Linked DNA regions of Homo sapiens. The protein of the gene in region 1 interacts with the protein of each later gene in a biochemical or structural test. Each region holds a gene or a part of one and is shown on either strand. Other genes may lie near its edges.

Region 1 (9,275 bases):
ATGCATCACAAAGCACAATTGGGTAAACAGTGATCTAGTTGAAGTCTTTCCATTTACAGACACAGACAGAAAATGAGGCCCAGAAAGGTTAATTGACTCACTCAAGGTCATGCGACGATCTCCTGAATCCTAGAGCTGGGTGCTTTTCACTGCCCCTAATGTTGCCTAATGGTTCGCTTAGCTATCCATTCACAGGAGGTCAGAAACTGAACACGGACCTCAGATTCCAGTATCATTTTGACTAAATTATATATAAAAATTGATGTACTGAATAGGATTTGCTTTCAATCTCACTGTTCCAGAAATAGTCATTCATTCAACAAATATTTATTAAGCACTATGTGCCAGGAACTGCACATTTTGCAGTGATCAAGATATGGCTGCACAGAAGACTGACAATAAAATTAGCCTTAAAGAGATCAAAATTGATTGAACTGTCCTTGATAAAACGGCTTCAAAGCAGGGACTTGCAAGAAATTGCATATTCACATTTCATTTGCTTCCATTAATAGTGCTCACATTTAGATCTGATGGTAATAATATGCTCTCAACTGGTGTGGGTCTGGAATAAAACACTCCCCTTGGCTGTGCACACTGCAGAGAGGAAAAACAAAATGATTGGAGTCAGCCGGGCTTTTCTATTGAGCACCTCGACCTACAGATTTTCCAATTTCAAGTTCATTCACATTTCATCTCTGGCTTCTACATTTTACTTAAAAAGCATTTCCCTATTTGCTATTGTCCACTAAGGAAAATGCCTATTTAAAAATAGAGTTTCTTTTTTAAAGCATCTTGATTCACACATTTCAAAGCTCTTCAGAAAACACGATTTCTCAAAAGCCATGTCATTCTAAAACATGCTACAGTTGTCAGATGGAGAAAGATTCAAGATATTATTCTACATGATCTTTTCAATGAACTGATCGCATCTGTCTAGGAATAAGGAGAGTTGTCTTATGTTACTTCAAAAAAGATTCCATATGAGAAAAAAAACATCTGGTCTTGAGAAGATCTAATGCCATGCCATTGAAGCCAGGTTTCAGCACAGACCCAACATGGGTATAAGTAATAAAAAGAAACCTGAGAAAACAGAAGCTCCTCAAGGTCCTTTGCCCTGGTGTATCTTTAAGGCCAAACTGTAAAGAGATTAAGCATGTACTTCCAGACCCAGCAAATATCTTCTTTGCATTTTAAGGATGCACTCATCGTTTCTTCAGAAGCAATCCTGAAACCCAATGTAGCAAAGCAAAGATAGTCACCCCATAATACAAATAATCTGTGTTTATTAGACACCAGAATAAATCAGGGATACTTCTTAAGCTATGGTAAAGAGGCCCCCACCAGCACAGAGAGAAGAAATGACATAAGCACAAAGCCACGGGAATCCAGACCCAGGAAAGCTGTGCTCCCACCACATCACTGCACACACACACAACCTGCTGTTTAAAAATCAATTCAAACACAAACAAGTGACTGAACAAGCCATTTGTTTAAAAAGGGAGGGGAGAGCATATTTTTTAAGGACCAAGTATCATTTTTTTTTTTAAGGACCCAGCACCATACTCTCTTCTCTCATAGGATCGTTGGTCCATCTCTGGTAGGCTGGGTACATTTGACTGAGTTTATTGCAACTGCTTCTGCCAATTCTTCGAACTACCAATCAATGGGGTGAGGTTTCTAAGCACACGAGCTACTACACAGAAACACATGATAAAGGGAGCAGCACTGGAAAGGCATGTATTTGCGTGTGTGTGCGTGCTTGTCAATGTCTGTGCGGTTATGCAGATCCATGAGGGGGTTTCTTAATGCAGTTTAATGGAATCCATTCGGGGTGAAAGGTGTTATTTTGTCTAAAGAAATCTCCCCCTCGCAGTCCAGCTCCCAGACAGACTCAGCAACAGGGTCACCATCTGGGGACGTCTGATAGATCTGGAACATGCGATCGAAAGGACCCTCCTCCTCGTCGTTGTCCACCTCCCGGTTGCCGGGGGTAACGGCGTTGGGCATCATGTGGATGTAGGCAGCTGCGATTTCCTTGTGGAAGACGATGTCTTGGTTGTAGGAGATGAGCTCATTGCTGATGTTCACCGTCTCCACCGGCGTGCGGGAGCAGAAGTGGCTGCACCCCAGCAGCTGGGCAAACACCTTCTGAAAGTCGGCGTTGAAGGCATAGATGACGGGGTTGAGTGAGGAGTTAGCCCAGCCGAACCAGACGAAGACGTCGAAGGTGGTCTCACTGACGCAGGGGAAGCCGGCCGGAGGGCCTTCGGGGTGTCCACTGCAGAAAGGGACCATGCAGTTAAGGATGAAGAAGGGCAGCCAGCAACACACGAAGACCCCCATGATCACCGACAGGGTCTTGAGAACCTTGGTCTCCTTCTTGATGGAAGCGCGCAGGCTGGTGTCGGGCGCGCAGGCTGCGCTGCTCCGGCAGCTCTGCGCGTGCTCTGCGGCCCTCTCCAGGGAGGAAATCCTGCGGATCTGCACCTGGGCGATGCGGTAGATGCGCGTGTAGGTCACGATCATGATGGCAACGGGGATGTAGAAGCTGATGAGCGAGGAAGAGATGGCGTAGGTTCGATTCAGGCTGGAGTCACAGTTCTCTGCATTCACGTCGGGCTCCCAAAAGTCCTCCTCCCAGGGCGTCCAGTTGGCCAGGTTGTTTGGCAGGTCCAGCCCGCCCCAAGAGGCCGCCTGGTCCCTGTGCCAGTTGAGCTGGACCGGAATGAAGGAGATGAGGATGGACAAGGTCCATGCCAGGCCGACCATGACCAAGGCCATGCGCTGAGTCATCTTGCGCTTGTAGCGGAAGGGCCTGGAGATGGCCCAGTAGCGGTCCACGCTGATGACGCACAGGTTCAGGATGGAGGCAGTGGAGCACATGATGTCGAAGGCCACCCAGACGTCGCAGAACGCTCCAAAGGGCCAGTAACCGGCCACCTCGGCGACTGCCTTCCAGGGCATGACCAGCAGCGCCACGAAAAGGTCTGACACGGCCAGAGACACGATGAAGACGTTGGTCATGTTGGCGCGCAGGTGGCGGCTCCGCACGATGGCTGCGCACACCAGCACGTTGCCCAGCAGGGTCCAGATGATGAGTAGGGTCAGCAGGCAGGCGGTGACCACCTGTGAGGGCCCCAGTGGCGGTGCCCCCGCCGAGCCCCCCACGGCGTTCCCCTGCGCCAGCTGCTGGTATAGAGCGAACTGCCCCGGGTACGCGGTGCCGTTGCTGCCTGGCGGCAGCATTTCGGGCTGGACTGCAGGGGCGGTCTGTGCGCGGTCCCAACTTCAGCCCTGCGACCCCCAGGCAGCCCCATCGGGCACCCCGAGGATGCGCCCCCTCAGCCAAGGGACCCTCGAGCCCCAGAGGGCGCTCACCATGAGCTGCGCCGGGCTGCGGAGCGCGCGGGGACTTCTCTTGCCTCCTGAAGCGCCTCTGGCTCCATGGCCGTGGTGCGCCCCTCCAGTCTCCGCGATGGGGACAGGAAGCGGCTGGTGCTCGCTGACAGCCAGGGCTGTTCTCGGGAGTCTGTAGCGCGCCGGACGGCAGCGGCAGCGGCTGTGTCTGGTTCGGAGCGAGAGAAGAGAGCAAGCCGCCACTGAGGGGCTGGGGCAGGCAGTCGCGGGCGCCAGGCTGGCACTGAGGCGCTGCCGCGGTCCCTGGCCGCTCCCAGGCCCCGCGTCCCGCCCCCCGAGCCTCCGCGCTCGACTCCCGCCCCACCTGTGCCTTGGCGCCCTCGCTCACCGCCCTCAGCGCGCCAGAGTGTAGGGGCGATCCCGCAGGTCCGAGGGGCGCCCCAGCGCCAGACCCTAGTCCCCGGGCCGGGGAAAATTCTCCCCGGGAAAACCGAAGGGTGCTTGGCGCATCCCTGGAGCCTTAGCCCTGGCCACGCTTGGGGAACAAGAGGTGGGGTAAGGATGAGGACGCGAGGGCTTCCGGAGGGGGAAAGAGCATTTGAAGGGTAAGCGGGGCAGCCTTGGATTACCCACAGACCCGAGTCCCAATCCGGACTTTATTCCTGGCTCTGCGACTTTAAGGGCCCTACATAACTTTACCCGGCCTTGGTTTCCTTCTCCACAGCGTGGGATAATGATTCCTACTCCTGGGACAGTGTCAGAACTCATGGAAGCCGTCTAGGATGAGGTGTCCAGTAGACAGTGTCTCCTAGGAACAGGCTCCCGCTTCCCCCAGCCCCTCTCTCAACACCCTGAGGCTGGGGCTTCAGCTGACCTCTTGGGAGATTGTCCTTTTCCCCACCACCGCCCCCAGTCCTTGAACGATTTTTCCTTTGGGGAATAATTCGGAATGAACTCAGAAGACAAGAGGAGGAAGAGAGCCCCCCACCCCCATAGAGTTGGAGGCCTCTTCTTTGCAGGGCACTTTTACAGCCTTTCTCTTTTTCAACCTTGAGAGGGATGGATAAATAGCTCAGTGTTTAACAGAAAAGGAACTGACGGGGCCCAAAACCCAAACTGAAAAAAAAGAATGATGGAAAACAATAAAGAGGGAAAACAGTGTTCCTGAGCTCTGAGTGCACCTCCCAGCTGACAAGTTGCATTTGTGAAGTGTTTCGGCCTCTACTGGCGTTAAGCTCAGCTGAAGGCAGCTGGGAGAGAAAGGGATGTGACAGCAGCCAGCTGCATAGCTCCGGCTGCGACCTGCTGGCCCAGACACCTGCAGCATGGTGAGGTCTAGAAACAGACTGGACTTTCTCCTCCCTTCCTAGTCTCCCCCTCCACCAAACGCACCTGTACCCTGGACCAACATCTGCAAGTGGCCCACCTTCTCAGACTTAAGCTGCTCAGCCTACACAGTCCCTTCCCCCAACCTCCTTCCCCCTCAGTGCTTTTTGCCGCTGGAGAGGGCAAGACCATCTGTCCAGGTGCCTAAACCTGAAACTGAAGGGCCATCCTCACCTCTGGTCTCTCCTCATCTTCTGGGAGCTGGACCACTCCTCTGGCCATGGACATCCCTGTCCAGAATTGTGCCTCCTCCATCCTGTTTGATGGTGGCACTTTCCTGGCCTCCAGTCTCTGCCCTGACCCTCTGTCTTCCCAGCAGGCAGTGATCTTTCCTGAATGTGACTATGTTCATGTCACTCCCCTGATGAAACACCGTCAGTGTGTTTCATGATCAGCTCCCTGTGGCCCCTGTTCCTGGCCAGGCATGCAAGGTCTTTTCCTCATATTGCCCTTGTCTTTGTCCACAGCTCCTGCTTCTTCTCCTTTCACTACTCCGAATACAGCCTGGATTCAAGCTGCCGCCACCACCACCGCCACCAAAAAAGAACACCCATTGTAAACGGTCATGTGGTATTTCCTCAACCTGGAATGACCTTCCCCTATCTTCTTCTCCTGGAGAACACCAAGTCATGATGTCAGACAAGAGCTTGGATTTTGGAGACATGGGTTTGAATTCCAGTCATTCATTCTTTTATTCAGCAAATATTTAACAAGTACTGACATGTCCCATATGTTGTTTTACCCACTGGTTATACAATGGGAGGGAGAGAGAGAGAGAGAGAGAGAGAGAGAGATGCTATTCTAAAAGCTTGAAGTCTAGGCTGTGCACGGTGGCTCACGCCTGTAATCCCAGCACTTTGGGAGGCCGAGGTGGGTGGATCGTGAGGTCAGGAGATTGAGACCATCCTGGCTAACATGGTGAAACTCCCTCTCTACTAAAAATACAAAAAATTAGCTGAGCATGGTGGCGGGCGCCTGTAGTCCCAGCTACTTGGGAGGCTGAGGCAGGAGAATGGCGTGAACCCAGGAGGCGGAGCTTGCAGTGAGCCGAGATCACACCACCACACTCCAGCCTGGGTGACAGAGCCAGACTCCGTCTCAAAAAAAAAAAAAAAAGTTTAAAGTCTAGATAGACTTTAACCCAGGAATAATCCAAAGAAATACACAATTACAAATGTGACAAGGGCTGTGAAGGGAAAGTTCACAGCCTTATCTAAGTGTACAGCAGTTGGGGAGGTTGGCCAAGGCAAGATGTTTAGGGAAGGCTTTCTGGGGAAATTTCTCTTTGGGTTGAATCACAGTTAAGTAGGCAAAGGGGAAGACAGAGGGAAGGGAAGTATGGCAGGCAGGAAGAATAGGCACTTACTAGCTTTGGTATATTGGGCAGGTCGCTTGATCTCTCTGAGCTTCAGTTCTCTCATCTGGGAAGTGAGTTAATAATAGTCGTTTAGAAAGTGTGATGAGACCAGCCAGGTGTGGTGGCTCATGCCTGTAATCCCAGCACTGTGGGAGGGTGAGGCAAGTAGATCATGAAGTCAGGAGATCGAGACCATCCTGACCAACATGGTGAAACCCCGTCTCTACTAAAAATACAAAACTTACCTAGGCATGGTGGTGTGCGGGAGGCAGAGGTTGCAGTGAGCCAAGATCGCACCACTGCACTCCAGCCTGGGTGACAGAGTGAGACTCCATTACAAAAAGAAGAAAAGAAAGAAAGAAAAAAAAAGAAACTGTGATGAGACCAAAACAATTAATGCATGAGTGTTCTGAACCTCCTTTCTCCCTCTGCTCTATCTGTGCAGTTTCTTGACCTGGGCGGTGCTCCAAAGAGGATTCTAGCTTGGCTTTTGTGATAGAGAATGGATACATTATTAGACCTGAAAAGCCGGAGGAGGGAGGAATGGTCCCAAAAGGAAGAAACTGTGCTTGTCTTCCCAATAAAGAGCAGAGAAGTGGGGAGAGGTATTGAAAGCTGTGGGTGGAGTTTTGCAGGGAAGATTGTGTGAAAGAGGTGAGGGAACTACGATCTGGGGGAATATGGATAGGAGAGTAAAAGGGAATTCTAGAGAACAATCCCTGCTGACTTCACACAACTTAAGAAATGCAAGTAAAGGGCCGGGTGCGGTGGCCCACACCTGTAATCCCAGTACTTTGGGAGGCTGAAGCAGGTGGATCACTTGAAGTCAGGAGTTCAAGAAGAGCCTGGCCAACATGGTGAAACCCCGTCTCTACTAAAAATGCAAAAATTAGCCAGGCGTGGTGGGATGTGTCTGTAACCCCAGCTACAGAAAGAGAGAGAGGTGGCTGAGGCAGGAGAATTACTCAAACCCAGGAGTTGGAGGTTGCAGTGAGCCGAGATCGCACCACTGCACTCCAGTCTGCTGGACAACAGAGCAAGACTCGGGGGAGGCGGGGAGAAGGAAAGAAGGAAGGAAGGAAGGAAGGAAGGAAGGAAGGAAGGAAGGAAGGAAGGAAGGAAAGAAAGAAAGAAAGAAAATAGAAGTAGAAATGCAAGTAAAACATTTCAGTTTGAAAATTGCCTTTTGTCTACTGAACATGAGACTGCTTGGAGACTGGGCAACATGGATTTTTATAAGTTGTACAAAGCACTTAGCAATGTTTGAACCTCTCCATCCTGCAAAGCCAGCTCAATCAGTTCTCCAGAAAGACTTACTGAGTCCTCTGCACTGAACAGGTGTCCTGTGTTCCAGGAGAGCCCTGGGCTGGCTCCTAGTGCAGCCGTTATGACCCTGGACTACACCATCTTTCACATCACCGCCTGGCCCTCTAGAATCTCAGCCTCTTAAATCAAGAAATTGTGTCTTGTTCATGTCTGAATTCCCCAAGCGAACACAGTGAGTGGGTGCTTGACAAATCTTTGTTGGTAATGAGCAAAAAGGGGATTCTGTGCCCAACACCATGAAATCAATGCACAGAAGTTTCAATCAACCAAGAAAGGTGCACAGACGCTGGCCACACACTGACATTTGTTTTCAGATGTTCCAGTCCCCCTGACTTTCACCAATCCATTCATTCCACAAGCATTTTTGATGGGGTGGAAGCAAGACAATACATGGTGTGTAAGTGACAGATAGGGTGGGTTTTTATAATGAGTATAGAAAAACTTCTAGCAGAAGATGATAAAGTATATCAAGAAAGGGCTCTCTTCAAGATCACACCACTGCACTCCAGCCTCGGTAACAGAGGGAGATTCCATCTAAAAAAAAAAAAAAAAGAAACAGAGACGGGGGCAAGGGAGCTCTTTTTTTCTAATTAGCACAAGATTGCCATTTCAGCTAGGGATTCTGCTGCAACCATCTCCCAGACCCTATTCTAGGGCCCGGGGACAGAAACAGAATTAAAAACATATTCCTTATCTTTCTTGGGCTTATATTATTGAGGAGAGAGAAATAAACAATTTCAAAATAAACAATGTCATACAGTGCTAAATGCTATAAATAAAATCAAACAGAATAACAAAAGAGGGAGTAGCTGGATTGAAGGGAAAAGCTGCTTCAGGATGAGTTGTCATCTTGGAGGAAAGTAAGCCCATGTAAAGGCCCTGGGGCAGAGTGAGCTTATTTGATAAAGAGGTAAAAGGGTCAGGATATCTGTAGCAATAGTGGCCACGGGAGGGAGAGGTATGAGACAGAGGAGGTGAGCCCTGTTGCCATGGTGAGGGCATGAGGATTTGTTCTAAGTTCCAGATACCTGGAATTAATGTCCTCTGAACTGGACAATAACTACGAGCCTTCATATCTCAATGCTACAGTCTTTAAGCCCCTGTTATAAGAACTCGGAGGCTTCAGGGATGACAGGAAACACCAGAACGCTATGGTGGAGCATATCTAGGTGCCTTCTCCCAACTCAGACCCTTTGACTGTACAAAGACACAGGTTTCAAGGCTGAGATCCACAAAACTCTAGCAAATACTGCACAGACACCAACCAATGACAGCAGGTGCTGCCTGTCACCCTGGAGCACCAGGCAGCATTTCAAAGCACTCTTGCTGTGCCGGCCTCTGATTGCTGGTTATAGGGAGGTCTGGGGTAGTCCCAAAAGCTGGGATGTCCAAGGTAGCTGGGGTCAGTCAGGAGGCTCAGGGCAGTGGCAGGAAAATATTTTCCTCCCTGTTAGAGCAACAGTGGGGTATCCAGGCTGAATATCAGTGGCGAGAAGGATGATCGCACAGCACCAAGACCTGCGGAACAAACTTTGTTGGAGCTGAATCCAGAAAAACAATCTTCTTCTAAGCCACTCTCCTGCCCCTCATTTAATTATTGTGCTTTTGGGTGTACTTGGACTACTCTGAAACATTCAGAACTCTGTCAAAAAAAAAAAAAAAGAAAGAAAGACTTCTTTCCTCAGCACCTCTCTGACTTGGGCATCAGTCTTGGCTTCCTGTCTACTTGCTTTCACTTGCTGTTTGTGGCAGAGATGGCCCCCAGCAGATCCCTTCCCTCGGGTTCCCTTGCTGTCAAGTGGAGGCTAGGGAGCGAGATTATGGCCAATAGAATGTGAGCGGAAGTGAT
Region 2 (3,014 bases), on another chromosome or scaffold:
CTCTAACCACACAAGCCAGTCAGCGAGCACTGCATGCTCAGGGACCCCTCCTCTCCAAAACCCTACAAGGTTTGCCCTACACTACTGGGGGCACAGGAACCCTCCAGGCCCTCAGGGCACCTCTTCCACTCTGCAGGATGACTCTGACATTGGCTGAGGTGTCCACATGGTGGGAGGGGTCCAGGGTATGGCACAGCCTGGGTCAGTGTTGGGTGGGGTCTTGGGGGCAGCGGGAGGGGCAGGAGTCATCATCACCCCCAGACCTCCACACCAGGACTGCATGGACCTGGCAGGTTTCCCCTCTTTGCAGTTTCTTTCCTCTCGTGATGTTTATTTGTGATGTTCATTGCAAAATGACTCTACCTAAATGTGTGGAGGTATAGGGGTGGGGTTTGGAATATGGGACCTCAGAATGGAGGTGTCCCCGGCTGCCCTTCCAGATGGCACCAAGTCCAGCCACAGGTCAGCTACACACATAGCACACTGGGACAATGCTGGGCTCCATTCAGGGTATTTTATTTTCTTAAAGTAGACAACCTTTGACTTTCATCCAATCCCCAGCTTCTCTTTCCCCCGTACATCTCTTCACGTCCTTGGCTGTGATTCCGCACACTGACCTCGGACACACAGCTACTGCACGGAGAGAGGGAGGGAGATCTGGCAAGGGCTCCGGCAGTGCCTCTCCTCTCCATGGCGCAGTTCGTATTTACACACGGCCCTTGGCGAACGTCCTTTCAACGCAGTTGCCCATAGGCCCTGGGACAGGAAGGCCCAGATCAGGGTCCCAGCAGGGCCTCCCTCAGGCCACAACGCTGGCTGTGCCTTCACAGGAGTCAGAGCATTTCCAGCCAGTCTCAGGCGCGGGGCATGCTGGGACCAGGGGCACCACCCCTTGCTCCCCTTCCTTCACTCAGCAAAGCCACAAATAATTTACTCTTTAAATACCAAGACACTTAGCTATTGTTCATTTGCTCCCAGGTGAAAGAACCTTCTTTAAATATGTCGTGTTTATTTTCTTAAATAAAAACAAAGCAGAAAACCCCACCATTAACAAGAGGACACTGCAGAGGCTTATGTACAACACGTGTCCCGCGAGGCTGGCGCAGGACTGCCACTCACTCCAAAATTTCTTTGGAGCAGAGAGACAGATCGTCCAGATAACAACTTTTACACTCAGCAAGCCAGACACAAAAAAGACCACCTGAAAAAAAATATGTTTTGAAAATCTGCATTTAAAAAAGAATACTCAACTGCATTTGAAATTTTCTGGATTTTTTTCTGCGAAACACCACGAGATTTGGCCAAAAAAAAAAAAAAACCAAAAAACAAAACAAAAAAAAAATGTCAGAGAAGGAAAACCAGGTTTTGATTTATAAAACATCAGACTAGTAGAAGAAAAGCTGGAATCCCAGCTGGCCTAGTTTGAAATAAATCGTGCCACTCGTTTTGTTGTATTGGTTTTTGCTGCATATTTTGAAGCTGTTTTTTAAAAAGAGCTGTGAGTGGCTGGAGGTCTGGTTAGTGCTGTCACCCGGCTCCTAAGGTCCCAGGTCCAGAATGAAAGTGGTGCTGAGCAGCTGTGTGCAGGCCAGCAGGGAAGGTGCACAGACCCTGCACTGGTCCTCCCTCTTGGTCAGCGGCAAGGTCCCTAGGCCAGAGCTCGGGCAGCGAGCTGGCCCTCCTCCAGGCGACAGGGGTGCAGTTGGCCTACCTTGCCTCAGCCCTGCTGCCTATCCCTAACAATCCAATGCAGACCCCCAAGTGGAGTGGGGCCAACTCAGGAAGGCAAAGTGAAGGGGCAGGTTGGGCTTGTAGTGACCTTGTGACAGCTTCTCAAGTCTTCAAGAGACCTCGACATTTTAGAGGATTTTGCCATCTCCAGATGTGTGTGTGTGCATGTGTGTGTGTCTATCTACCTAGCAATCTATCCGTAAATATTTATGTTTGCAGAAATGTGGGGCCAAGGAGGCAGAGGCCAAGGGGTGGGGGACATTCTTTAGGCCCCCTGTTTTCTGCCCCTGGATTGGGCCTCTCTAGCACGCGTTGGGGCATGACACCCCGTGGGTTTCACCATAGGCAGGCGGGCCCCGGGCCCAGCTCCTCAGCAAAGGCCAATGTACTTGAGATTGTTCTGTATGATGACGTCTGTCACCGCGTCGAAGACAAACTGGATGTTACTGGTGTCGGTGGCGCAGGTGAAGTGGGAGTAGATCTCCTTGGTCTCCTTGTTGCGGTTCAGGTCTTCAAACTGCCGCTGGATGTAGACAGCGGCCTCCTCGTACGTGTTCTGGCCCTTGTACTCGGGAAAGCAGATGGTGAGCGGGATGCGGCGGATCTTCTCTGCCAGCAGGTCCTTCTTGTTCAGGAAGAGGATGAGTGAGGTGTTGATGAACCAGTTGTTGTTGCAGATGGAGTCAAAGAGGCGCAAGCTCTCTGCCATCCGACTCTGGGGAAAGGAAAGTACTGGCGTTAATCAGGCCCGCAGCAGGCAGAGACAGACCCTAGACCTGCAGCCCTGCCAGAGGAAGCCTTTGCTAGGGTCTCAGCCCAAGACTGGTCCCTGCAATGGCACCTCCTTCTGCTGGGGAAGCCCAGGTTAAATGTCTTCACCCACCTCCCACGGAAATAGCCGGCAGCACCCTCCTTGCCAGTGGCAAGTGCTTGGAAGATGTTCTCTTGCCCCTTTTGGGTCTCTCCTCTGGGTGCCAGTGATCTCAACATATAGCTTTGGGGCTACAGATGTGCCAAGCACAGCCTCCTAAACCGCTGGGCACCTCCAGCTCCGAGGACCCCCCATCTTCCCACTGCCCATCCACAGGCTGCCCCACACCTGTACAAGGAAGGCCATCTTCTGCAGGAGCCCCCGTCACATCATAGCTCCCTCAATGCAGGCGCTGGCAGCCTTGTGCCCTATCTGGGTTCTGGCCCAGTCCTTCAAAACTCTGATCCTTCCATGTGGTACCATCGGACACTAGGAAGTCTGTGAGGGAGCAGCCTTCACTTCTGTAACCAAA

Evidence for each region. The genes of interacting proteins can lie anywhere in the genome.
Region 2: the proteins of DRD5 (region 1) and GNAZ form a complex in vitro, tested with the Homo sapiens proteins (one study listed by BioGRID).

What each region holds. Positions count from the first base shown.
Region 1 is NC_000004.12:9,776,001-9,785,275, reverse strand, and holds DRD5 (D(1B) dopamine receptor), read right to left. Parts: upstream 3,643-9,275; 5' UTR 3,247-3,642; coding exon 1,813-3,246; 3' UTR 1,267-1,812; downstream 1-1,266. Other genes in the region: SLC2A9 (solute carrier family 2, facilitated glucose transporter member 9), read left to right, coding at 5,211-5,409. UniProt on the Homo sapiens protein: Dopamine receptor whose activity is mediated by G proteins which activate adenylyl cyclase.
Region 2 is NC_000022.11:23,122,519-23,125,532, reverse strand, and holds the end of GNAZ (guanine nucleotide-binding protein G(z) subunit alpha), read right to left. Parts: coding exon of another isoform or gene 2,883-3,014; exon of another isoform or gene 2,831-2,882; intron 2,447-2,830; coding exon 2,102-2,446; 3' UTR 501-2,101; downstream 1-500. UniProt on the Homo sapiens protein: Guanine nucleotide-binding proteins (G proteins) are involved as modulators or transducers in various transmembrane signaling systems.